Linked DNA regions of Homo sapiens. The protein of the gene in region 1 interacts with the protein of each later gene in a pairwise test. Each region holds a gene or a part of one and is shown on either strand. Other genes may lie near its edges. The genes, in order: SH3GL3 and DNAJC5.

Region 1 (12,448 bases):
AGAAATCGATTTCAGAATTAAAATCAAATCCTCTTGCAAGTTTTTACTAGGCGTAGATCAATATTCTGAGAAAATCTTGTTGCTCTGGTCCTGCATCAGTGTATCCCTGAAACCAGGGCTAAATTCTGAAATTCCTTTCCGGAATCCCAGCCAACCCAATTATACACAAAACTCCCTTTCCAAGACCCATCTTTCATAAACCCTCCATGACTCGCTTAGACCTGCCATCATTTTCTTAAACCCTAGTGTGATGGCTAACGTTGAGTGTCAACTTGATTGGATTGAAGAATGCAAAGTACTGTTTCTGGGTGTGTCTGTAAGGGTGTTGCTAAAGGAGATTAACATTTGAGCCAGTGGACTGGGAGAGGCAGACCCACCCTCAATCTGGGTGGACACCATCTAATCAGCCGACAGCGCAGCTAGAATAAACCAGGCAGAAGAATGTGGAAAGACTAGACTGGCCGAGTCTCCTGGCCTTCATCTTTCTCCCGTGCTGGATGCTTCCTGCCCTCGAACATTGGACTCCAAGTTCTTCAGCTTTTGGACTCTTGGACTTAAACCAGTGGTTTGCCAGGGGCTCTCGGGCCTTCGGCCCAGACTGAAGGCTGCACTGTCAGCTTCCCTACTTTTGAGGTTTGGGGACTCAGTCTGGCTTCCTTGCTCCTCAGCTTGCAGATAACCTATTGTGGGACTTCACCTTGTGATCGTGTGAGTCAATACTCCTTAATAAACTCCCTTTCATATATACATCTAACCTATTAGTCCTATCCCTCTAGAGAACCCTGACTAATACACCCTTCTTTGTCCTACAGTGAAATTTATCCAGGAGAGAAGAAACAATAGTGCAGAGAAGAGATGGCAACAAGAGCAAAGTCCCTGAGAAAATGAGAGGAGATGGGATTGGAAGCACAATGGTGTGACTAGCCAGGTGTGTCTTCCACTGTTGCACTGGAGAAGCACTGAAGCACTACATATGAGCTCACAAGACCCTCCAGAGTTTTGATTTGTGGCCCAGAAGAAAGAAAGGTGGACAAGGATGAGAAGATTTGACTCGGATATCAGATTCACTAGGGAGGACTCAAGTTATCCAGCCTGAAATATCAGCAGCCTCTACCACGGATGGATGATTTGAACAGGCAAAGTACTTAGTAGCATTACTGTCTGAGGAAGATGTAGCCAGGGACGGGGAAAAGACACCATTATCCACTGGATTTGGAAGTCAGAAGGAACAACACCTGGCTCAGGAAGGCCACTGGCTGCTGGTGCTGTGTGTGGTAAAAACATTGGGATGACCCTGGAAATTGGGAAGGAATTCCCATTGGGAAAGCATTTCAAAGAACTAGAATAGTTAGAACTGGAAACAATGCCTCCCTGATCTCATCAATAGTACTTCTCTCAGACTCTCCCCTCAGCTCAACACTTTCCCAGGTTTCTGTTGAAAAGCAAAATCTAACTGTCCACATTTTGCTGCTAAAGATTCTCCAGAATATGTTCACTATTTAGCCGAACAGTGTGTCAGTTGTTTACTGACAGTTCTATCTTCTGGGCAAAGCATGCCAGTAATAGCTTCCCCAAATACACATGAGATACCCACACACACACTTAACTTTGGGAAATTAATTTACATTCCGTTTGTTAATAAAGCTGAAAAATTAAACTAAAGCAATAGGGAAAAAAATCCCTGCTTTCAAATGCATTTTTAAATCAAATTCCAAGTGATACCATGAGTTACATTTACTTTATAGAACAAAAAGTCCTCAGTGGTAAGAAATATATGGATTGTATTATATCCTTAAGATATTTTAAAAAATCAAAATCAATCCATTTTAAACATCTATCTTCACACCCTGACTTTAAAAAAAAGGATTTATCAATTAGTTTATCAAGCAATCTATGTGAAAAGGAGCAAGAATGTTTTAGCTTTAATATATTTTCTGATGCGTCTAAGAGAAAAAAATAAATCATTATGGATTGTGCAAAGTGCATTTTATCTTTCTCTCTAATGAGATAGTGAAACAAGAGACATTCATTGCCTCCCTAGAGAATCTCATGATTTACAAAGAATATCCTTCTCTGAAGCATTTACCCCTAAATGGCCAGCCTGTATAGTCAGTGATTACAGGGAATACGTCCAGGCCCCTCATGACCCCTTATCATTTTTCTGGCTAATGCATTAAAAGAGAAAGGGGGAAAAGTTGTAAAAAAGCACTGTGTTAGAGGCTCCCCTTCTTTCTGCCCTACAAGCAGTGTCCTTTAACCTCTGGCATGTGTTGCTGAGTCACATGACAGAAGTTAAAAGGCATAAAGAAGTAAATTTAACATGGAGCCCACAAGTGTCATCAGTAGATGGTTAGTCTTGGGAGAGAAGGAGAGGAGGAGAAGAGATGAAACTGGTCCCTGGACTTTTATGGGATGCAGAACAAGGACCCTGGAAGACAAGAAGGTCCAGAAATGGAAAGAATATGACTATTAGTACTTTCCAGGTCAGAACACACATAGGTGTGCCCTGAACTTCCTTCTTCAACAATAAATGCTGTCAAGAAAAATTACTATGAAATAAGCATACAAATACAAATCAGTGAGTGGTAACACAAATGTAAATATTGTAAGCTATATTTTTATTGGTGAGGTACCACGTTTAACAAGAAACCACAATGCCATATCTATGCTATTTGTATTTATTTATAATAGCTCAAGCTACATCTCTACCAGAAGAGTAAACAGCTCTATCAAAAAAATCTTGTCAAGAGAAAAAATATTTAACTATGCACTTGAAAAATTTGGGTTCTGAGGGGAGGAGCCAAGATGGCCGAATAGGAACAGCTCCGGTCTACAGCTCCCAGCGTGAGCGACGCAGAAGACGGGTGATTTCTGCATTTCCATCTGAGGTACCGGGTTCATCTCACTAGGGAGTGCCAGACAGTGGGCGCAGGCCAGTGTGTGTGCGCACCGTGCGCGAGCCGAAGCAGGGCGAGGCATTGCCTCACCTGGGAAGCGCAAGGGGTCAGGGAGTTCCCTTTCCGAGTCAAAGAAAGGGGTGACGGACGCACCTGGAAAATCGGGTCACTCCCACCGGAATATTGCGCTTTTCAGACCGGCTTAAGAAACGGCGCACCACGAGACTATATCCCACACCTGGCTCAGAGGGTCCTACGCCCACGGAATCGCGCTGATTGCTAGCACAGCAGTCTGAGATCAAACTGCAAGGTGGCAACGAGGCTGGGGGAGGGGGGCCCGCCATTGCCCAGGCTTGATTAGGTAAACAAAGCAGCCGGGAAGCTCGAACTGGGTGGAGCCCACCACAGCTCAAGGAGGCCTGCCTGCCTCTGTAGGCTCCACCTCTGGGGGCAGGGCACAGACAAACAAAAAGACAGCAGTAACCTCTGCAGACTTAAGTGTCCCTGTCTGACAGCTTTGAAGAGAGCAGTGGTTCTCCCAGCACGCAGCTGGAGATCTGAGAACGGGCAGACTGCCTCCTCAAGTGGGTCCCTGACCCCTGACCCCCGAGCAGCCTAACTGGGAGGCACCCCCCATCAGGGGCACACTGACATCTCACATGGCAGGGTATTCCAACAGACCTGCAGCTGAGGGTCCTGTCTGTTAGAAGGAAAACTAACAACCAGAAAGGACATCTACACCGAAAACCCATCTGTACATCACCATCATCAAAGACCAAAAGTAGATAAAACCACAAAGATGGGGAAAAAACAGAACAGAAAAACTGGAAACTCTAAAACGCAGAGCGCCTCTCCTCCTCCAAAGGAACGCAGTTCCTCACCAGCAACAGAACAAAGCTGGATGGAGAATGATTTTGACGAGCTGAGAGAAGAAGGCTTCAGACGATCAAATTACTCTGAGCTACGGGAGGACATTCAAACCAAAGGCAAAGAAGTTGAAAACTTTGAAAAAAATTTAGAAGAATGTATAACTAGAATAACCAATACAGAGAAGTGCTTAAAGGAGCTGATGGAGCTGAAAACCAAGGCTCGAGAACTACGTGAAGAATGCAGAAGCCTCAGGAGCCGATGCGATCAACTGGAAGAAAGGGTATCAGCAATGGAAGATGAAATGAATGAAATGAAGCGAGAAGGGAAGTTTAGAGAAAAAAGAATAAAAAGAAATGAGCAAAGCCTCCAAGAAATATGGGACTATGTGAAAAGACCAAATCTACGTCTGATTGGTGTACCTGAAAGTGATGTGGAGAATGGAACCAAGTTGGAAAACACTCTGCAGGATATTATCCGGGAGAACTTCCCCAATCTAGCAAGGCAGGCCAACGTTCAGATTCAGGAAATACAGAGAACGCCACAAAGATACTCCTCGAGAAGAGCAACTCCAAGACACATAATTGTCAGATTCACCAAAGTTGAAATGAAGGAAAAAATGTTAAGGGCAGCCAGAGAGAAAGGTCGGGTTACCCTCAAAGGAAAGCCCATCAGACTAACAGCGGATCTCTCGGCAGAAACCCTACAGGCCAGAAGAGAGTGGGGGCCAATATTCAACATTCTTAAAGAAAAGAATTTTCAACCCAGAATTTCATATCCAGCCAAACTAAGCTTCATAAGTGAAGGAGAAATAAAATACTTTATAGACAAGCAAATGCTGAGAGATTTTGTCACCACCAGGCCTGCCCTAAAAGAGCTCCTGAAGGAAGCGCTAAACATGGAAAGGAACAACCGGTACCAGCCGCTGCAAAATCATGCCAAAATGTAAAGACCATCGAGACTAGGAAGAAACTGCATCAACTAATGAGCAAAATCACCAGCTAACATCATAATGACAGGATCAAATTCACACATAACAATATTAACTTTAAATATAAATGGACTAAATTCTGCAATTAAAAGACACAGACTGGCAAGTTGGATAAAGAGTCAAGACCCATCAGTGTGCTGTATTCAGGAAACCCATCTCACGTGCAGAGACACACATAGGCTCAAAATAAAAGGATGGAGGAAGATCTACCAAGCCAATGGAAAACAAAAAAAGGCAGGGGTTGCAATCCTAGTCTCTGATAAAACAGACTTTAAACCAACAAAGATCAAAAGAGACAAAGAAGGCCATTACATAATGGTAAAGGGATCAATTCAACAAGAGGAGCTAACTATCCTAAATATTTATGCACCCAATACAGGAGCACCCAGATTCATAAAGCAAGTCCTGAGTGACCTACAAAGAGACTTAGACTCCCACACATTAATAATGGGAGACTTTAACACCCCACTGTCAACATTAGACAGATCAACGAGACAGAAAGTCAACAAGGATACCCAGGAATTGAACTCAGCTCTGCACCAAGCAGACCTAATAGACATCTACAGAACTCTCCACCCCAAATCAACAGAATATACATTTTTTTCAGCACCACACCACACCTATTCCAAAATTGACCACATAGTTGGAAGTAAAGCTCTCCTCAGCAAATGTAAAAGAACAGAAATTATAACAAACTATCTCTCAGACCACAGTGCAATCAAACTAGAACTCAGGATTAAGAATCTCACTCAAAGCCGCTCAACTACATGGAAACTGAACAACCTGCTCCTGAATGACTACTGGGTACATAACGAAATGAAGGCAGAAATAAAGATGTTCTTTGAAACCAACGAGAACAAAGACACCACATACCAGAATCTCTGGGACGCATTCAAAGCAGTGTGTAGAGGGAAATTTATAGCACTAAATGCCTACAAGAGAAAGCAGGAAAGATCCAAAATTGACACCCTAACATCACAATTAAAAGAACTAGAAAAGCAAGAGCAAACACATTCAAAAGCTAGCAGAAGGCAAGAAATAACTAAAATCAGAGCAGAACTGAAGGAAATAGAGACACAAAAAACCCTTCAAAAAATCAATGAATCCAGGAGCTGGTTTTTTGAAAGGATCAACAAAATTGATAGACCGCTAGCAAGACTAATAAAGAAAAAAAGAGAGAAGAATCAAATAGACACAATAAAAAATGATAAAGGGGATATCACCACCGATCCCACAGAAATACAAACTACCATCAGAGAATACTACAAACACCTCTACGCAAATAAATCAGAAAATCTAGAAGAAATGGATACATTCCTCGACACATACACTCTCCCAAGACTAAACCAGGAAGAAGTTGAATCTCTGAATAGACCAATAACAGGCTCTGAAATTGTGGCAATAATCAGTAGTTTACCAACCAAAAAGAGTCCAGGACCAGATGGATTCACAGCCGAATTCTACCAGAGGTACAAGGAGGAACTGGTACCATTCCTTCTGAAACTATTCCAATCAATAGAAAAAGAGGGAATCCTCCCTAACTCATTTTATGAGGCCAGCATCATTCTGATACCAAAGCCGGGCAGAGACACAACCAAAAAAGAGAATTTTAGACCAATATCCTTGATGAACATTGATGCAAAAATCCTCAATAAAATACTGGCAAACCGAATCCAGCAGCACATCAAAAAGCTTATCCACCATGATCAAGTGGGCTTCATCCCTGGGATGCAAGGCTGGTTCAATATACGCAAATCAATAAATGTAATCCAGCATATAAACAGAGCCAAAGACAAAAACCACATGATTATCTCAATAGATGCAGAAAAAGCCTTTGACAAAATTCAACAACCTTCATGCTAAAAACTCTCAATAAATTAGGTATTGATGGGACGTATTTCAAAATAATAAGAGCTATCTATGACAAACCCACAGCCAATATCATACTGAATGGGCAAAAACTGGAAGCATTCCCTTTGAAAACTGGCAAAAGACAGGGATGCCCTCTCTCACCGCTCCTATTCAACATAGTGTTGGAAGTTCTGGCCAGGGCAATCAGGCAGGAGAAGGAAATAAAGGGTATTCAATTAGGAAAAGAGGAAGTCAAATTGTCCCTGTTTGCAAACGACATGATTGTTTATCTAGAAAACCCCATCGTCTCAGCCCAAAATCTCCTTAAGCTGATAAGCAACTTCAGCAAAGTCTCAGGATACAAAATCAATGTACAAAAATCACAAGCATTCTTATACACCAACAACAGACAAACAGAGAGCCAAATCATGAGTGAACTCCCATTCACAATTGCTTCAAAGAGAATAAAATACCTAGGAATCCAACTTACAAGGGATGTGAAGGACCTCTTCAAGGAGAACTACAAACCACTGCTCAAGGAAATAAAAGAGGACACAAACAAATGGAAGAACATTCCATGCTCATGGGTAGCAAGAATCAATATCGTGAAAATGGCCATACTGCCCAAGGTAATTTACAGATTCAATGCCATCCCCATCAAGCTACCAATGACTTTCTTCACAGAATTGGAAAAAACTACTTTAAAGTTCATATGGAACCAAAAAAGAGCCCGCATCGCCAAGTCAATCCTAAGCCAAAAGAACAAAGCTGGAGGCATCACACTACCTGACTTCAAACTATACTACAAGGCTACAGTAACCAAAACAGCATGGTACTGGTACCAAAACAGAGATATAGATCAATGGAACAGAACAGAGCCCTCAGAAATAATGCCGCATATCTACAACTATCTGATCTTTGACAAACCTGAGAAAAACAAGCAATGGGGAAAGGATTCCCTATTTAATAAATGGTGCTGGGAAAACTGGCTAGCCATATGTAGAAAGCTGAAACTGGATCCCTTCCTTACACCTTATACAAAAATCAATTCAAGATGGATTAAAGATTTAAACGTTAGACCTAAAACCATAAAAACCCTAGAAGAAAATCTAGGCATTACCATTCAGGACATAGGCGTGGGCAAGGACTTCATGTCCAAAACACCAAAAGCAATGGCAACAAAAGCCAAAATTGACAAATGGGATCTAATTAAACTCAAGAGCTTCTGCACAGCAAAAGAAACTACCATCAGAGTGAACAGGCAACCTACAACATGGGAGAAAATTTTCGCAACCTACTCATCTGACAAAGGGCTAATATCCAGAATCTACAATGAACTCAAACAAATTTACAAGAAAAAAACAAAGAACCCCATCAAAAAGTGGGCGAAGGACATGAACAGACACTTCTCAAAAGAAGACATTTATGCAGCCAAAAAACACATGAAGAAATGCTCACCATCACTGGCCATCAGAGAAATGCAAATCAAAACCACTATGAGATATCATCTCACACCAGTTAGAATGGCAATCATTAAAAAGTCAGGAAACAACAGGTGCTGGAGAGGATGTGGAGAAATAGGAACACTTTTACACTGTTGGTGGGACTGTAAACTAGTTCAACCATTGTGGAAGTCAGTGTGGCGATTCCTCAGGGATCTAGAACTAGAAATACCATTTGACCCAGCCATCCCATTACTGGGTATATACCCAAAGGACTATAAATCATGCTGCTATAAAGACACATGCACACGTATGTTTATTGCGGCACTATTCACAATAGCAAAGACTTGGAACCAACCCAAATGTCCAACAATGATAGACTGGATTAAGAAAATGTGGCACATATACACCATGGAATACTATGCAGCCATAAAAAATGATGAGTTCATGTCCTTTGTAGGGACATGGATGAAATTGGAAATCATCATTCTCAGTAAACTATCGCAAGAACAAAAAACCAAACACCGCATATTCTCACTCATAGGTGGGAATTGAACAATGAGATCACATGGACACAGGAAGGGGAATAACACACTCTGGAGACTGTGGTGGGGTCGGGGGAGGGGGGAGGGATAGCATTGGGAGATATACCTAATGCTAGATGACACTTTAGTGGGTGCAGCGCACCAGCATGGCACATGTATACATATGTAACTAACCTGCACAATGTGCACATGTACCCTAAAACTTAGAGTATAATAGAAAAAAAAAAATTAAAAAAAAAAAAGAAAATCTATAACCTTAAAAAAAAAAAAAAAGAAAAATATCCCATTTTAATAAAGGATAATGCATATTAGAAAAAAAAAAAAAAAGAAAAATTTGGGTTCTAGTCTCAAACGCTGAAACTTAGAATTAATTAAATTTTTTTGTTAACTTATATTCTTCTCATTTTAGCATATTTCTTCCTCTTTCCTGTTGGTCTCCATGTGCTGCCAAAATGATGCATAATCCCCAGGGTTTACGAGTCTTCATTCTCTGTAAAGTAGGGGTTTTTTCCCAGAGATAGGGAAGGTATCAGGAAAAAAGGAACAGTTAACCGGGTTATAGCTAATTTTACCTCGCTTATCTTTCAGAAAACTATCTCAGTTTGCCATGGTCCTGGATCCCTTCTCTGTAAAAGGTCCACTTTATCATCTTTGTCTTACTCTGAAATGCTTAACTTACTTAAGAATTTCAGCACTGAGATGTATACATACACACACACCCAGAGACACAGAGACATATTCGTATCACTTTATTGAGATATATTTCACATACCATACAATTCTCTTAAAGTGTACAATTCAGTGGTTTTCAGCATATTCACAGAGTTGTGAAACCATTGCCACAATCATTTTTATAACAGAAACATAGCTTCTAAATTCCCTGAGTCATCATACAGATAGAAACCAAGGTCCAGATGGGTTAAGTTATGTTCCCAAGGTTACAGAGCTGGTCAGTGGCTGAGCCAGACCTAGATCCCTGGAAATTATTTTAGCCATTGACATCATCTGGGGCTCCCTTCCCCTGCCCCAGGTAAGTTCTGTATGAATTAAAACCTGCTGTTAAAATGTTGTCTGAGAAAAACATCTGGCATTTTTTATTATTGAGCTCCCTCATATTATATTAAACCGGTCTGATTTCTCCACCAAATTGTTGCATTGCAAGATTTTTTAGAAAGACTTCTAGAACATATTAAAACATATCTACTGAGTACTTTTAACCACAAAACATGGCTATGAAGCCCAGAGAGAATCTGTGATGCCTCTCCTTTCAGGTAAAGTCATAAATTATTTCCGCTCATGCGAAAAAAAAAAAAAAAAAGACTAAATAAGACGTTCTGTTCATTTCATTTTTAATGTACTGATTACAGGTAGTTAAACCAAACTACCCATGACTAGCAAAATATTTCTCCAGTGCCAATAACTTCCAAGGATTTCAACCATTCATTCTGGTTACTGTCAGAAACCAACTTAAATCACCCAAGGGCTTACGTTATCTCTGAGATTTGCTTATCTTTGAGATTTGCCCCTGTGAAGTCCATACCCAATAAAGGAAAAGTTTTCAAAAGAGGAGGTTCATTTCCTGCCAGTGCTAAGGAAGCCAATGTAACAAGTACAGCCAGCGATTACTCTGGCACTGCTCTGCTCTGCTCTGCTCACAGCAGCACTCGGCCTCCTGGCTGTACCAGCTGAGGACACTCCACAATACCTAGCTCACTGAAGCACTTGTTGATTGCTCCTGCCTTTAAATGTCCCCCTTCCATGATGGTCTTCTCTCTCCTGTCATCTACGAGTTCTTTCTTTCCTGTGTTGTGCCACCCCAAAATTTCATCTATTCAATAAATATTTATTGAGTGGTCACTGCTCAACAATTACTGGGCTAAACATTGTCCCTAAATGGGGGTGCTGTCTAGAGTCTGCCTTTAACTCGCTGTGCCTTTTCTCACTTTTGTCTACACATACATTTTTAAATCTCCGCTTAGGCTGGAAATCACCAAAAATCTGTAGCTCCAGTACCAGCCTCACCCCCTGAGCTGCAGGTCAGGATATGCACCCCAACCCAGGCCAGTGACATGTGAATGTCCCAAAGACCCCTCAAAGTCCCTGGGTTCAGTGGTGAATCCATCATCTCCACCCTCACCTGAATAGCCTCTCCTCCAGGGCTCCTTAACACCTTGAATAGCACCACTGTCCACCCAGTGCCCCCAGCTAGAAACAGCATCACCCAGTTTCCATATGGAAAGAGTGTGAGTGAGGGGACAGCAGTGCCTTTCAGCCTGGAACTGGGGCTAGAAGAAGAGAATCTTCTAATTGCAGTTGCTTTCTATGGGCCAATTTGTGGGAGAAGCAGGATGAGACCTCACCACAAATGTGGACGTTGAATGAAATCTGTCTACCCTGGCTCTAGCAAAATGGGGGCTGGGGTTGCGGGGAGAGGTGGTGAGAAGCAACAGACCCAGCGGTGCTGGTGGGGAACAGGTTTTACAACGTGAGCTCTGCCATAGCTGGAAGAGCCTGCAATGTTGATGTTGAAAAACAAATTTGCTTGTCATCAACACACACACACACACACACACACACACACACACACACATCAATTTCATGTCTCCCCTCCTGTTTTCCTGTTTCCTCTGCTCAGAACGGCTTTCCTCCTATCATCCCACACCCTCAGCCATAATTCTTCCTCATACTTAATTCTCAAATGACATGTCTCCTCCTCCGGGAAGCTCTCCCTGACGCCCCCACTGTGTTATTTGTCATCCTCTGTGCGTGGAGGTGTGTCTAGCACTGTTTGTTTACGTGTCTGTCTCCGTGTCTCCCCTGCAGGCTGTCAGCTCTGTAAGAGCAGAAGCGTGATGCCCAGCCCCGGGCCGACACCGGGAAGACGGTGGGGAGGGGAAGGACCGCGGTAGAGAGCCCCAGCCGGGGAGCCGGGCACAGTCCAGACGGGGCCATTTCGATGCGCGCGCGGGGAGCTCAGCGGGACACAGCCAAGCGCCAAATACACAGCATCTCTGGAGGCGCCGGTGGCCGGTGGAGGATGGGCCCCCCACGAGGCTCTCCCAACCAAACGGCTGGAGACTCGGGGGAGGCCCTGCCGGCATCGTACTCCCTGTGGTCGTCCTCCCCTCGCGCGGGTAGGGGCCCCCCCACGCCCACTCCGTCTCCGCCTCCCGAGTCCCCGCGGCCGCCACCTCTGCCCTCCGCTCCGCAGAATCTCTCCGATTTACAACGGCCCAGGGCAGAGCCGGGGGCCAGGGAATGGGAAGGAGAAGGCGCCAAGACGCCGAGGAGAGAGCAGGCGGCCCCTCACCCCACCCTCGCGCCCTCCTAGGCGGGAAGAAATTGAGCCCCGAGAGAGGCCCTTCAGGGAACAGGAGTCCCAAAGGCCCGGGAGCCTCGGGGGGCCGCAGCCTCCGCGTCCCCCTCCCTCCTTCCCTCCTCTGCGCCTCCCTACCTGGCTGGCTTTGTGGAACTGCTTCTTCAGCCCGGCCACCGACATCGCGACTGCGACCGGCAGGGGCGGGGTGGTCTCAAGGCTCGGCTGGGCCACGCGGCCGCGACGCGCTCGGGGAGCGGGAGCCCGGGCCGGTCCCCCCGCGGCTGGGCTCCGCCGGGCCCGCCTCCCACGGCCACGGCCACAGCCACAGCCGCTGTCACACTCGCACACACGCGCGCACGCCGATGGCAACACTGCGTTCCAAAGCCCCTGCGCAGCCCATTGGCCAAGCCGCGGCGATATGCAAATGAAGCTGCTGGGGCCGCCCACGCTTCATTGTTGCGTGGAGACCTGGGCTACTTGAGCCGCGCAGAAGACCGGCCTGGGAAGCTGGGCGTGGGGATGTCCTGGGGGTCGGG
Region 2 (12,448 bases), on another chromosome or scaffold:
TGCAACGGCACGGTCTCAGCTCGCTGCAAACTCCACCTCCCGGGTTCAAGTGATTCTTCTACCTCAGCCTCCTGAGTAGGTGGGATTACAGGCATGTGCCATCACGCCCGGCTAATTTTGCATTTTTAGTAGAGATGGGGTTTCTCCATGTTGGTCAGGCTGGCCTCAAACTCCTGACCTCAGGTGATCCGCCCTCCTCAGCCTCCCAAAGTTTTGGGATTACAAGCTTGAGCCACCGTGCCCGGCCACCTTGTTTGCTTTTTAAAGATAATGATGTCACTAAAAGAGTTCTGACTGAGGCCGGGCCTGGTGGCTCACACCTGTAATCCCAGCACTTTGGGAGGCCGAGGCTGGTGGATCACGAGGTGTGGTGATCAAGACCATCCTGGCTAACACGGTGAAACCCCGTCTCTACTAAAACTGCAAAAAATTAGCCGGGCGTGGTGGCGGGTGCCTGTAGTCCCAGCTACTCAGGAGGCTGAGGCAGAAGAATGGCGTGAACCCGGGAGGCGGAGCTTGCAGCAAGCCGAGATAGTGCCACTGCACTCCAGCCTGGGAGACAGAGCGAGACTCCGTCTCAAAAAAAAAAAAAAAGAGTTCTGACTGAAGGTTGGAACTTAGCCCTCCAGAAATGAAGACTGCGAATAACGCTGATGGCAGCTCGTCACTTGCAGCAGGTTGCAGCACGTGCTGCTCGTGTAGCTGCGGCTGCACACCAGGCCTCTCCTTTAACTGTGTTATAACCTTTCTGTTGACATGGGATCCCCTTGAAAGTTTTTTTTTTGGAGACAGGGTCTCACTCTGTCACCCAGGCTGACGTCCAGTGGTGCAATTTCAGTTCACTGCAACCTCCTCCTCCCGGGTTCAAGCCATCCTCCTGCCTCAGCCTCCCAACTAGCTGGGATTACAGATGCACACCGTCACACCCAGCTAATTTTTGTATTTGTAGTAGAGATGAGGTTTCACCACGTTGGCCAGGCTGGTCTCAAACTCTTGATCTCAGGTGATTCAACCACCTCAGCCTCCCAAAGTGCTGGAATTACAGGCGTGAGCCACCACTCCCGGCCCCCTTGAAATTTAAACCAAGTTTAGGAAGAATGAAGTTGTGAGGTGCTACTTCAAACATCAGGTGGCAAACTCCCGGACTCATTACCCCAAGGAAATAGGCAGTCCAGGTTGGTGGCTCACGCCTGTAATCCCAGCACTTCGAGAGGCCGAGGCAGGCGGGTCACCTGAGGTCAGGAGTTCAAGACTATCCTGGCCAACATGGTGAAGCCCATCTGTACTAAAAATACAAAAAAATTAGCTGGGTGTGGTGGCGCGCGCCTGTAATCCCAGCCACTTGGCAGGCTGAGGCAGGAGAATCGCTTGAACCTGGGTGGTGGAGGGTGCATGGAGCCAAGATTGCACCATTGCACTCCATCCAGTTTGGGTGACAGAGTGAGACTCTGTCTCAAAAAAAAAAAAAAAATAGACATCAGAAAGGGTTGGCTCCTGTGATCTCGGCACTTTGGTGACCATGACCCAAGGCAGGAGGATCACTTGAGCCAAGGAATTCAAGATCAGCCTGAGCAACATAGACCCCGTCTCTGCAAAAAATTTCTAAAAACTTAGCTGGCATGGTGGCTCACGCCTGTAGTCCCACCTATTCAGGAGGCTGTGTTGGGAGGATCACTTGAGTCTGAGAGGTTGAGGCTGCCATGATCCCTTATCACACCACTGCATTCCAGCCTGGGTGACAGAGCAAGACCCTGTCTCCAAACAAACAAAAAAGCAAAAAATGGTGTTTTACCTAGGTATTTACCATTTCCAGTGGTCTTCATTCCTTTCTAAAAATCTAGGTTTTAGCCGGACATGGTGGCTCATGCCTGTAATCCCCAGCACTTTGGGAGGCTGAGGCGGGTGGCTCACCTGAGGTCAGGAGTTCCAGACCAGCCTAGCCAACATGGCAAAACCCAATCTCTACTAAAAATACAAAAATTAGCCAGGCGTGGTGGTACGTGCCTGTAGTCCCAGCTATTCAGGAGGCTACGGCAGGAGAATCGCTTGAGCCTGGAAGGTGGAGGTTGCAGTGAGCTGAGATTGCACCACTGCACTCCAGCCTGGGCAACAGAGTGAGACTCTGTCTCAAAAAAGAAAAAAAAAAGAATAAGTCACATTTTGGTGAGGAGCAGTGGCTTGCACCTATAATCCTGGCACTTTGGGAGGCTGAGGCAGGAGGATCACTTGAGACCAGCCTGGGCAACAAAGCCAGACCGTGTCTCTATAGAAAATTTTAAAGTTAGCTGGGCATGGTGGCACATTCCTGTAGTCTTAGCTGCTTGGGATGCTGAGAAGGGAGGCTTTCTTGAGTCCAGGATTTCAAGGCTGCAGTGAGCCAAGATCGCACCACTGCACTCCAGCCTGGGCAACAGAGAAAAACCTTGTTTCTAAAAAAAAAAATTAGGCTGGGTAGGGTGGCTCACACCTGTGATCCCAGCACTTTGGGAGGCTGTAGCAGGCGGATTGCTTGAGTCTGGGAGTTTGAGACCAACAAGATCCTGACTCTATAAAAATTTTAAAAAATAGCTGGGCGTGGTATTGCACACCTGTAGTCCCAGCTACTCAGGAGGCTGAGGTGGGGGGATCAGCTGAGCCCAGGAGGTCAAGGTTGCAGTGAGCTGAAATGTGACCACTGCACTCCAGCCCGGGCAATAAAGTCAGGCGGGGAAAAGAAAGAATGAGTTAACATTTTCTCAGCTTTATGTGTTGAGTGATTTTGGATTCTATCCTGAAATGGTAAGAATGAAAAGAAAATCTGCCAAGTCCATCCGTTCCTACACTCTCACTGCCTCCAAGTCATTCTGCGCTCTTGAGCCAGAACGACCTGGCCGTTTTTAAAAATGGAGTTTTTTGCCTTAGTAATTGACTTGTGTAAGAGTTCTTTATTCCACTTGTGAATTGTTTTTTATACGTACATAATGTAAATATTTTCTCCCCTTCTGTGCCTTTCAGTATGAATCTATCTGAACTCGATTCTGCTGTTGTGTGTGTGTCTTTTCCTCAGTACCAGATGGTCTTGATTACTGTAGATATATAGTATATGTCTTGAAATCAATAGGGTAAATTCTCTAACTTTTGTTCTTTTTATTAATGTTGCTGTGGCTAATCTGTCTGCTACATTTCCTTATACATTTAAAAAAATCAGTATCAGTTTCTGCAAAAAAAAATCCTCTTGGATTAGGGTTAGGCTTCTGTCAAGTCTACAGATCAGTTTGGGGAGAACTGACTTCTTTATATCGAGGCTTCTAATCCGTGAACATGAGGAATCTTTTTCTTATCTTTAGTATCTTAGCAATTTGTGGTTTTCAACGTACAGATTTCATAGGTCTTGTTATTTCTTTTTCTTTTTTTGAAACAAGGTCTCACTGTGTCACCCAGGCTACAGTGTGGTGGCACGATCATGGCTCACTGCAGCCTCGAGCTTCTGGGCTCAGCCATCCTCTTATCTCAACCTCCTGTGTCACTAGGACCACAGACATGAGCCACCATGCCTATTTAACTTAAAAACAAAAACAAAAAACCGGGCACGGTGGCTCATGCCTGTAATCGCAGCACTTTGGGAGGCCGAGGGGGGGATTGACTGAGGCCAGGAGTCCGTGACCAGCCTGGACAACATGGCAAAACCCTGTCTCTAAAAATACAAAAATTAGCTGGGTGCAGTGGTGCGTGCCTGTAGTCCCGTGCCTGCGGCATGGGAATGGGTTGAGCCTGGGAGGCGGAGGTTGCAGTGAGTTGATGACTTAGGATTTTTCTTCTCGGTCACTTTGCAAGCCGGGGACCCCTGGCCAGTGATGCCCCACCTGGGCCCTGCTTGGCCACACTGGCGTGCCCCAACTCACCTGTGTTATAGCTTGTACTGTGTTCGGCCATTCCCGAGCTCATGTACCGCACTCAAGATCAAGGATACACTGGACATTGAAGGGTGAGGAGGGCGGAGAAGAACTTTATTGAGCAGTGAAACAGCTTTCAGCGGACCAGGGGATGCAGGGGTGGTTCCCCTACCTGAAGGCAGGAAAGTCCGCCTGTGTGGCTGGGTCTGGGGCTTTTTATGGACTCAGGATGCGGAGTGCTTGCAGAGCTTGCTGATGGGTTTGTGAGTATGCAGAAAAGGTTAAAGTGGGCATGACAGTGTAGAAAACCAATTATAAGAGGCCGGGCACGGTGGCTCACGCCTGTAATCCCAGCACTTTAGGAGGCTGAGGCAGACGGATCACAAGGTCAGGAGTTCAAGACCATCCTGGTCAATGTGGTGAAACCCCATCTCTACTAAAAATACAAAAATTACCTGGGCGTGGTTCGCGTGCCTGTAGTCCCAGTGACTTGGGAGGCTGAAGCAGAAGAATCGCTTGAACCCGGGAGGCAGAGATTGCAGTGAACTGAGGTCACACCACTGCACTCCAGCCTGGGCAAACAGAGCGAGACTCCACCTCAAAAATAAAAATTAGGAAAGGGTAGGTATGTGTAAAATAGGTGAAGGATGGGGATCAATCAGAGGAAAGTGTGGCAAACAGGAAGGCAAGTTCTTCATCTAGTCTGAGGATTTAACTTGTAGCTCAGCTGTCAGGCTTTAAACTGTCTTTGGCTTGGAGGTGGGTTTCACCGGGAACCCGCCCCATCTGCCTGGCATTCAGCTGCCTCCTGCCAGTATCACCGAGATCGCGTCACCGCACTCCAGCCTGGGCAACAAAGCGAGACTATCTCAAAACCCCATATTGATGTCATTTCCTAAATATTTGGTTAAAAAAAAAATCTGGGCCTGGAATTTTATCTGGTTTTTTTTTTTTTTTTTTTTGAGACGGAGTCTCGCTGTGTCGCCCAGGCTGGAGTGCAGTGGTGCGATCTCTGCTCACTGCAAGCTCCGCCTTCCGGGTTAACGTCATTCTCCTGCCTCAGCCTCCCGAGTAGCTGGGACTACAGGTGCCTGCCACCACTTCCGGCTAATTTTTTTGTATTTTTATTAGAGATGGGGTTTCACTGTGTTAGCCAGGATGGTCTCAATCTCCTGATCTCGTGATCTGCCCGCCTTGGCCTCCCAAAGTGCTGGGATTACAGGCGTGAGCCACGGCGCCTGGCCTTCTGGGGATTTTTTATTACAAATATAACTTTATTAACAGATGCAGGCCTATTCAGATTTTCTATTTCATGTCAGTCTTGGTAAATTGTAATTTTCAAGATATTTGTCCATTTCATCTAATTTTTCTAATTTCTTGGCATGAAGTTGTTCGTATTTTATCCTTTTCACGCCTCTAGGATCTGTAGTGATGTCTTTCCTCATGTTGCTCAAAGAACCAACTCTTTTGGCTTTGTTGAAGTTATCTGTTTGTTTTCATGGATTTCTGTTCCTTATGATTTCCTTGCTTGCATTTATGTTGGGTTTATCCTGTTACTTTGTAGCTTCCTGAGGCGGAGCCTTAGGCCTTGATTAACGTGTTGTACTAGTCAGCATTCTGCAGAGGAACGTTGCCATTATCTGTGTCTCTTTCTAAAGGAGATTTGTTATGAGGAATTGGCCCACGTCATTATGGAGACGGAATCTCATGCTCTGCCATTTGCTGAAGATTGAGGAAAGCAGTGGGATAATAACAGTCCAAGGACAGGAGGAGACACGTGGCCCCGCTCAGGCTGGCAGGCGAGAAGGAAAACCCAGGCCAACTCCTCCTCCCACCCCTTTCTATTCGGGACCCCCGTGGACTGGGACGACACTCACCTGCACAGGGCAGCGCAGTTGGCTTCATGGAGCCCCCAGCTCAGGTGCTGCTCTTACCAAGAAACACCCTCCCAGGCACACCCTGAAGTCATGTTTCATCTGGGTGCCCCACGATGCAGCAAAGGAGACATGAAATTAACCGTCATGTACACTGTATTTATTATTCAATTCAAAACATTTTCTAAGTTCCCCTGGGATTTCTTCTTTGAGCTACATGTTAGCCGGAGGTGTGTTGTTGAATATCAAGAGTATCTTCCTCCTGGGTTTCCAGTTTGTAGCTAAGTCAGGGATAGTGCTGTGTGTGACCTCATTCCATTACGTTTATTGAAACCAGCTTGAAGCCCTAACATGTGGCTTGTCTTAGTGTACAGCATTCAGTTAAAAACAATGTGTGTTCTCTAGATGTTGGGTGTTCTGTGACTGTCACGTCATGGTGGTTGATTAGTTAGAAACAATGTAGAAACAATGTGTATTTGCCAGGCGCTGTGGCTCACACCTATAACCCCAGCACTGTGGGAGGCTGAGGCAGGCGGATCACCTGAGGTCGGGAGTTCAGCCTGAGGTCGGGAATTCAAGACCAGCCTGGCCAACATGGAGAAACCCCATCTCTACTAAAAATACCAAAATTAGCTGGGTGTGGTGGCACATGCCTGTAATCCCAGCTACTCCTGTGTGAGGCTGAGGCAGGAGCATTGCTTGAACCGGGGAGGCGGAGGTTGTGGTGAGCCGAGATCGTGCCATTGCACTCCAGCCTGGGCAACAAGAGCAAAACTGTCCCCCCCCCCAAAAAAGAAAGAAAGAAACTGTGTGTTCTCTAGATGTTGGGTGTTCTGTGAAGATCAGGTCATGGTGGTTGATAGTGTTGTTCAGAACATCGATGTTTTTCCTGATTTTTGGTCTGTTCTGTCGATTTCTGAGAAAGTATTAAAATTAAAGTTGGGTCTTGCATTTTTATCCATTCTGTCAGTCCCTTACTTTAATTGGAGTTTTTTGTCCACTAACATTGAATTTAATTGTTGATATGTTTGGATTTAGATCTTCCAACTAATTTTCTATTTGTTTCCTGTGTTGAGTTACTTTTTCATTTTTCTTGTAACTTTTTAGCTTATACCTCTTTGCATTTTTTATGCAGAGGTTGCTGTAAGGATTACAATATGCATGTTTATTTTAATTAATTAATTTATTTTGTTTATTTATATATTTGTTTTTAAGGAACAGGGTCCCTGTCTCCTGGGCTCCAGTGCAGTGGAGTGATCATAGCTCACTGCAGCCTCAAACTCCTGGGCTCAAGCGGTCCTCCCGCCTCAGCCTCCCAAAATGCTGGGACTACAGGTGTGAGCCCCTGTGCCGGCCCACAGTACACAGCTGCAGTTCTTCAGGATCTCTTGGGGTGGCCGTATTCTGCCGTCTCACACTTCTCCATGCCATGGCGTCTGTCTGTGCACGTGGCAAACTCCACAAGGCAGTGTTGGATTCTTTTGCTTTGAACGGTCTTATGGAATAAAGTCCATCAGCTCTGCCCTTGGTACTTTCATCTATACTTTGTGATACTTTCTTTTTATTTTTTCTTCTAGAATAGCCTAACATGGCAGACCAGAGACAGCGCTCACTGTCTACCTCTGGGGAGTCATTGTACCACGTCCTTGGGTTGGACAAGAACGCAACCTCAGATGACATTAAAAAGTCCTATCGGTAAGTGGACAAGTGTGGCCCCCACATCCCCCCAGGAAGACACACATGCCCCGTGTGGTTTAGTCTGCATTTTACCAAGAACCATTGCACATACTTTATCCTGGCCGACTCAGCGTTGAACTGGTCACAGCTCGGTAACACCTTTGTATGTGTAATGTGCTCCTTATAGCTTAAAGTTATGGTATTCATGTTCTCTTGCCAACAAAAAATAGCACTTAGTAGAAACTGACACACTGTCCACAGTTCCATAGGGAGTCAGGGTCTGAACCTGTTTGAGGCCTCACAGGAGCCGCAGAGCGCTGGCATGGTCCTGTGGTCTCCTTGTTTTAGCACAGTGATGACAGAGACCCCTCACTCTGTTGTGGCCTTCTGATTGAGCTTGAAGAACTGCACTCTTGGGTACAGTTTCATTGAGTAACCTGTAAGAGACACCATCACTAATCCAGACAATTCAGATAGTCCTCCTCTCGTGTGCTAGCATCGTGTAGTTCATAAAACACTTCTTAAAGTGCCATCATTACGCCCCGCCGTGCTTACCGTTCACTTGGCACTTGTGCAGTTAGCGGCTGGGACACCAGGGCTGGCCTTGGTGCCGCTGAACTTAGATGTGCCGTGGCACTCACAGCCCTTGGGGCTCCCTCCTCTGAGGCTGGGTCAGGGTGAGGAGGTTTACCTGAAACAACCGCGGAGCTTGCTTTTGTCCCTGGCCCCTGCAGCCCTGGAGAGTCGGACAGTGAGGTGGCCTGGGTGGACCTGCCTTCCACTGCACCCGGCAGTGCGTGCGGGTGGGATGGACGCGGCGGCGGGTGCGGGTGGAACAAAGTCCAGGGTAGAGCCAGGACATGGTTTTGGTTTGCAGGAAGCTTGCCTTGAAATATCACCCCGACAAGAACCCCGACAACCCGGAGGCCGCGGACAAGTTTAAGGAGATCAACAACGCGCACGCCATCCTCACGGACGCCACAAAAAGGAACATCTACGACAAGTACGGCTCGCTGGGTCTCTACGTGGCCGAGCAGTTTGGGGAAGAGAACGTGAACACCTACTTCGTGCTGTCCAGCTGGTGGGCCAAGGTGAGGGCGAGCTGCCTGCCGTGCGGGCACCCGAGTCACTCCTGCCGTGCGGGCACCCGAGTCTCTCCTGCCGTGCGGGCACCCGAGTCACTCCTGCCGTGCGGGCACCCGAGTCTCTCCTGCCGTGCGGGCACCCGAGTCTCTCCTGCCGTGCGGGCACCCGAGTCACTCCTGCCGTGCGGGCGCCCGAGTCACTCCTGCCGTGCGGGCACCCGAGTCTCTCCTGCCATGTGGGCACCCGGGTCACTCCACGCCTGCAGGGTTCCCAGCATTGCAGAGCCCATGCGTTGATGCCAGCAACTCTACACTCCTGAGAAAAGGCTTCTGGGCATATGGAGCCTTTCTCCTCACCTGTGTGATGGGCGAAGCTCTGTCACTGGCTTGGTGTCCTGCCTGGAACAAGCCATAGCGTACAGATTGTCCCAGGGAAGAGCCGTGCGGAGCCGCCAGGGTTTCTTCTGTAAATGGCTCCCAGTCCTTCGTGAGACAGGAGGAAATAAGCCTCGATGTTACATCCGCATTTCTTCGTTTCCTCGTTTTGTTCCAAATGTCATATATGAGGCCAGAGGGTTGGAATCACTGCATGGCATTTGTGAGAAGCCTGTATTTGGCTTTGACTGGTCGGCCTCCTCACTAGAATCCTTATAAAGTACTTTTTATTTAGTTAATGTTAGACAGAGTCTCGCTCTGTTGCCCAGACTGGAGTGCTGTGGTGAGATCCTGGCTCACTTTAACTTTGAATTCCTGGGTTCAAGTGATCCTCCCACTTCAGCTCCAGAACTGCAGGAGTTGAGGCGTGAACCACTGTGCCCAGCCTGGAGGCTGCTTTGTTTTTTTTTTGAGACGGAGTCTCGCTCTGTTTCCCAGGCTGGAGTGCAGTGGCGCGATCTTGGCTCACTGCAAGCTCCACCTCCCGGGTTCACGCCATTCTCCTGCCTCTGCCTCCCGAGTGGCTGGGACTACAGGTGCCCGCCACCACGTCCAGCTAATTTTTTGTATTTTTAGTAGAGACAGGGTTTCACCGTGTTAGCCAGGATGGTCTCGATCTCCTGACCTCGTGATCCGCCAGCCTCGGCCTCCTGGAGTGCTGGGATGACAGGCATGGGCCACCACGCCCGTCTTGGAGGCTGCTTTTCTTTAAGCTGCGGGTTTCTTTCTGTCTCTCCTCCTCCCTTCTTCAGTTCTTTCCTTCTGCTTCCTGTCTGGAAGGCAGTATCCCCACCTGGAACGCACCCCCTGCCTTCTGCTGAGGGCATTTGGGAGTCCTGCGCCTCCCTCTCCAGGGGCCTCGGAGGCCATGCAACACCACCTTCTTCTCCCCCCAGGCCCTGTTTGTCTTCTGCGGCCTCCTCACGTGCTGCTACTGCTGCTGCTGTCTGTGCTGCTGCTTCAACTGCTGCTGCGGGAAGTGTAAGCCCAAGGCGCCTGAAGGCGAGGAGACGGAGTTCTACGTGTCCCCCGAGGATCTGGAGGCACAGCTGCAGTCTGACGAGAGGGGTGAGTGCCCGCCCCAGGGCCCGTGTGTGTGTGTGGGGCAGAGCCAGAATGGGCCCTGAATGGTGTCAACCTGTCTTGTCAAACAGGAGGGCACTGACACTGTGCCGCGAGTGTTTGTGGTGGCAGCTGGGACTGTTGAGGTGTGAACGTGGACCCTGAGGTAAAGCAGGCGCATAGAGCTGTCCCCGCCGTGACCTGCGGTAGCCGTAGATCCCAGGGACTGCGAGGCGGGGCAGGGCGGCAGGCAGTTGGGGCGGGGCTGAGGGCCGAGGGCTGGCGGTGACCCAAGGCGACGGAGGAAAGCCGTGTGGGGTGGAGGTCAGCGAGTAGCCTCTCCCGGTGGAGAGTTTGTCCAGGTGCCCGAAAGTCGCTCCACAGGACCAGCGTTGGGTGCGCGCCAGGCTGTGGCCCTCGTGCAGTGCCCTGTGTGCTTGCTTTTCAGAGGCCACAGACACGCCGATCGTCATACAGCCGGCATCCGCCACCGAGACCACCCAGCTCACAGCCGACTCCCACCCCAGCTACCACACTGACGGGTTCAACTAAATCCAGGAGGAGCTGTGGTCAGAGGAGGAGCCGGCGCCTGGCCACGCCAACCTTAGAATCATGAACTGTAGTCACAGAGATGGGAAGGCAGCCTCCTGCCTGCCCTGGCCTTGCTGGGGCCCCTCCTGCCTCCACGCCCACCCAGCGTCGACCCTTGACCCACGAAGTGCGTAGCATGCAGTATTTAAAGCAGTGTAGCTACGGTCTTCTGTTTTTTTCCCTTTTTTAATAGCATGTATGGGGTTCTGTTCCATGTCTGTGTTGTGGACATTCCGCGGCATGACCGCGTGAACTGCACGGTGGAGCTGCCTCAGGGCTGTCGGTCAGGTTGGTCCAGTGAGGGGTGACTGCAGCCGGTCAGGTGGGCGAGGAGAAGGGGGGCTGCCCCTTTCCTACCTGTGCTTGAGGGGCCGGAGGCAGGTGCTGCCTGGCAGAGCTGTGTTACCGTCTTGGCCTCGGGGTCTGGTCCACACTCTGTGCTCCCAGCCTTGAGGCTGCAGTAGGACTCTGATCTCACCTGCCAGAAGAGAGGCGGGGCCGCGTCCTCCTGGCGTCACCGGCGTCACTGTCATTCCTTGGTGTCTGTGCTGGGCATGGTTGGCTTGGGGGTCTGTGGTTTCCTGGGCCTTGTGGCAGGGTTTCTCCCGTGGGAGAATTTGGTGTGGAAAGCATAGGAGGCCCCTTCCGAGGTTGACACCGTGTCCTCCGCGGTGTTTCTCGCCTGGTCGTCTCGTCGTGTGGACGCTGCCGTTCTGGTTCTCGGAGGTGTGTCCTTCGCCGTGTTGGGGTTATTTGTCTGTGTTCCTGCACTTTTCCCGGGCTCTGAGCTGGATTGATGGGGCCAGTCTCCCCCCTCCCATCTTGAGGTCGTTCTCCACATTCCTTCCAGCACACCTGTCCTTTCCATAGCCCTTTTTGGACCTTTAGAACCACAGATGATAGGACCAGCCCAATGAGCCACAGTCAGAGAGTAGATTGTGCATGTGTGAGCACCCAGCTACTGGGGACGGGGGCTCTCCCACGACCCCTCCTCCTGTGTTTGCCAGAGCTCCCATCTGCCCCACTCGCCTTTGCCCCGTCATCGATGATTCAGGCAGAGCCAGATTCGTTAGGTCCCTGGAGGAAGGACTGACTGGACCAGAGGGACCCTCTGGCTCAGGAGGGTTGGGTCCCTGGGAGGCCGGCAGCCAGGCCACAGAATCCACACGTGGACCATTGTGGGTCCCTGGGAGGCCGGCAGCCAGGCCACGGAATCCACACGTGGACCATTGTGGGTCCCTTGGGAGGCCAGCAGCCAGACTACGGAATCCACATGTGGACCATGGGAAGTCAGTCTCTTGCGTGTCCTAGACCTTGTGGGTGGCGCCCTGCATAGGGGAGCAGGGGGAACGGGTCTGATGTCCCTGTGCTGGCTGAGGGCTCAGAGCTGCCCGCACTCCGTAGCTCATGGGATGTGCTGGGCCTGCCTTTGGCGCCATGCTGCAGACTCCAGTGGGCCTGGTTTCTGCAGAATGTCCATGGTGGCCGCTGCAGAGTTGCAGAGGTCCCTGTAGAGATAAAGCTGAGGAGGAGGCTGTGTGTGATGGCTCTGGCTCGGACCAACCAGATGAGCCTCCTGAAGCCCCCTTCCCTGCCTGCCTGCTGACCCGTGGCCCCAGCTCACTCATTGCCCTCAGCAGCCACCCGAGGCTGTGCAGAAGGGTAGGTTCAGGTTGACCAGGAAGCTGCCAAAAGGGACATGGATATGAGGATACATCTGGACGTGCTTAGGAACAGGGTGCTGGTTGAGGGCCCCCAGCTGACCCCTACTGCAGATCCGCATGTGGACCATGAGCCGGCTGCCAGCACTAGGTCCTGGGCAGCTTTGTTTGTCCCACTTTTCTTTGTTTCT

What was found.
Region 2: the proteins of SH3GL3 (region 1) and DNAJC5 come close enough for resonance energy transfer, tested with the Homo sapiens proteins (one study listed by BioGRID).

Annotation. Positions count from the first base shown.
Region 1 is NC_000015.10:83,447,178-83,459,625, reverse strand, and holds the start of SH3GL3 (endophilin-A3), read right to left. Parts: upstream 12,286-12,448; 5' UTR 12,093-12,285; coding exon 12,048-12,092; intron 1-12,047. UniProt on the Homo sapiens protein: Implicated in endocytosis. May recruit other proteins to membranes with high curvature.
Region 2 is NC_000020.11:63,921,012-63,933,459, forward strand, and holds part of DNAJC5 (dnaJ homolog subfamily C member 5), read left to right. Parts: intron 1-5,160; exon of another isoform or gene 5,161-5,976; intron 5,977-6,290; exon of another isoform or gene 6,291-6,311; intron 6,312-7,323; 5' UTR 7,324-7,334; coding exon 7,335-7,441; intron 7,442-8,300; coding exon 8,301-8,514; intron 8,515-9,839; coding exon 9,840-10,011; intron 10,012-10,453; coding exon 10,454-10,557; 3' UTR 10,558-12,448. UniProt on the Homo sapiens protein: Acts as a general chaperone in regulated exocytosis. Acts as a co-chaperone for the SNARE protein SNAP-25. Involved in the calcium-mediated control of a late stage of exocytosis. May have an important role in presynaptic function.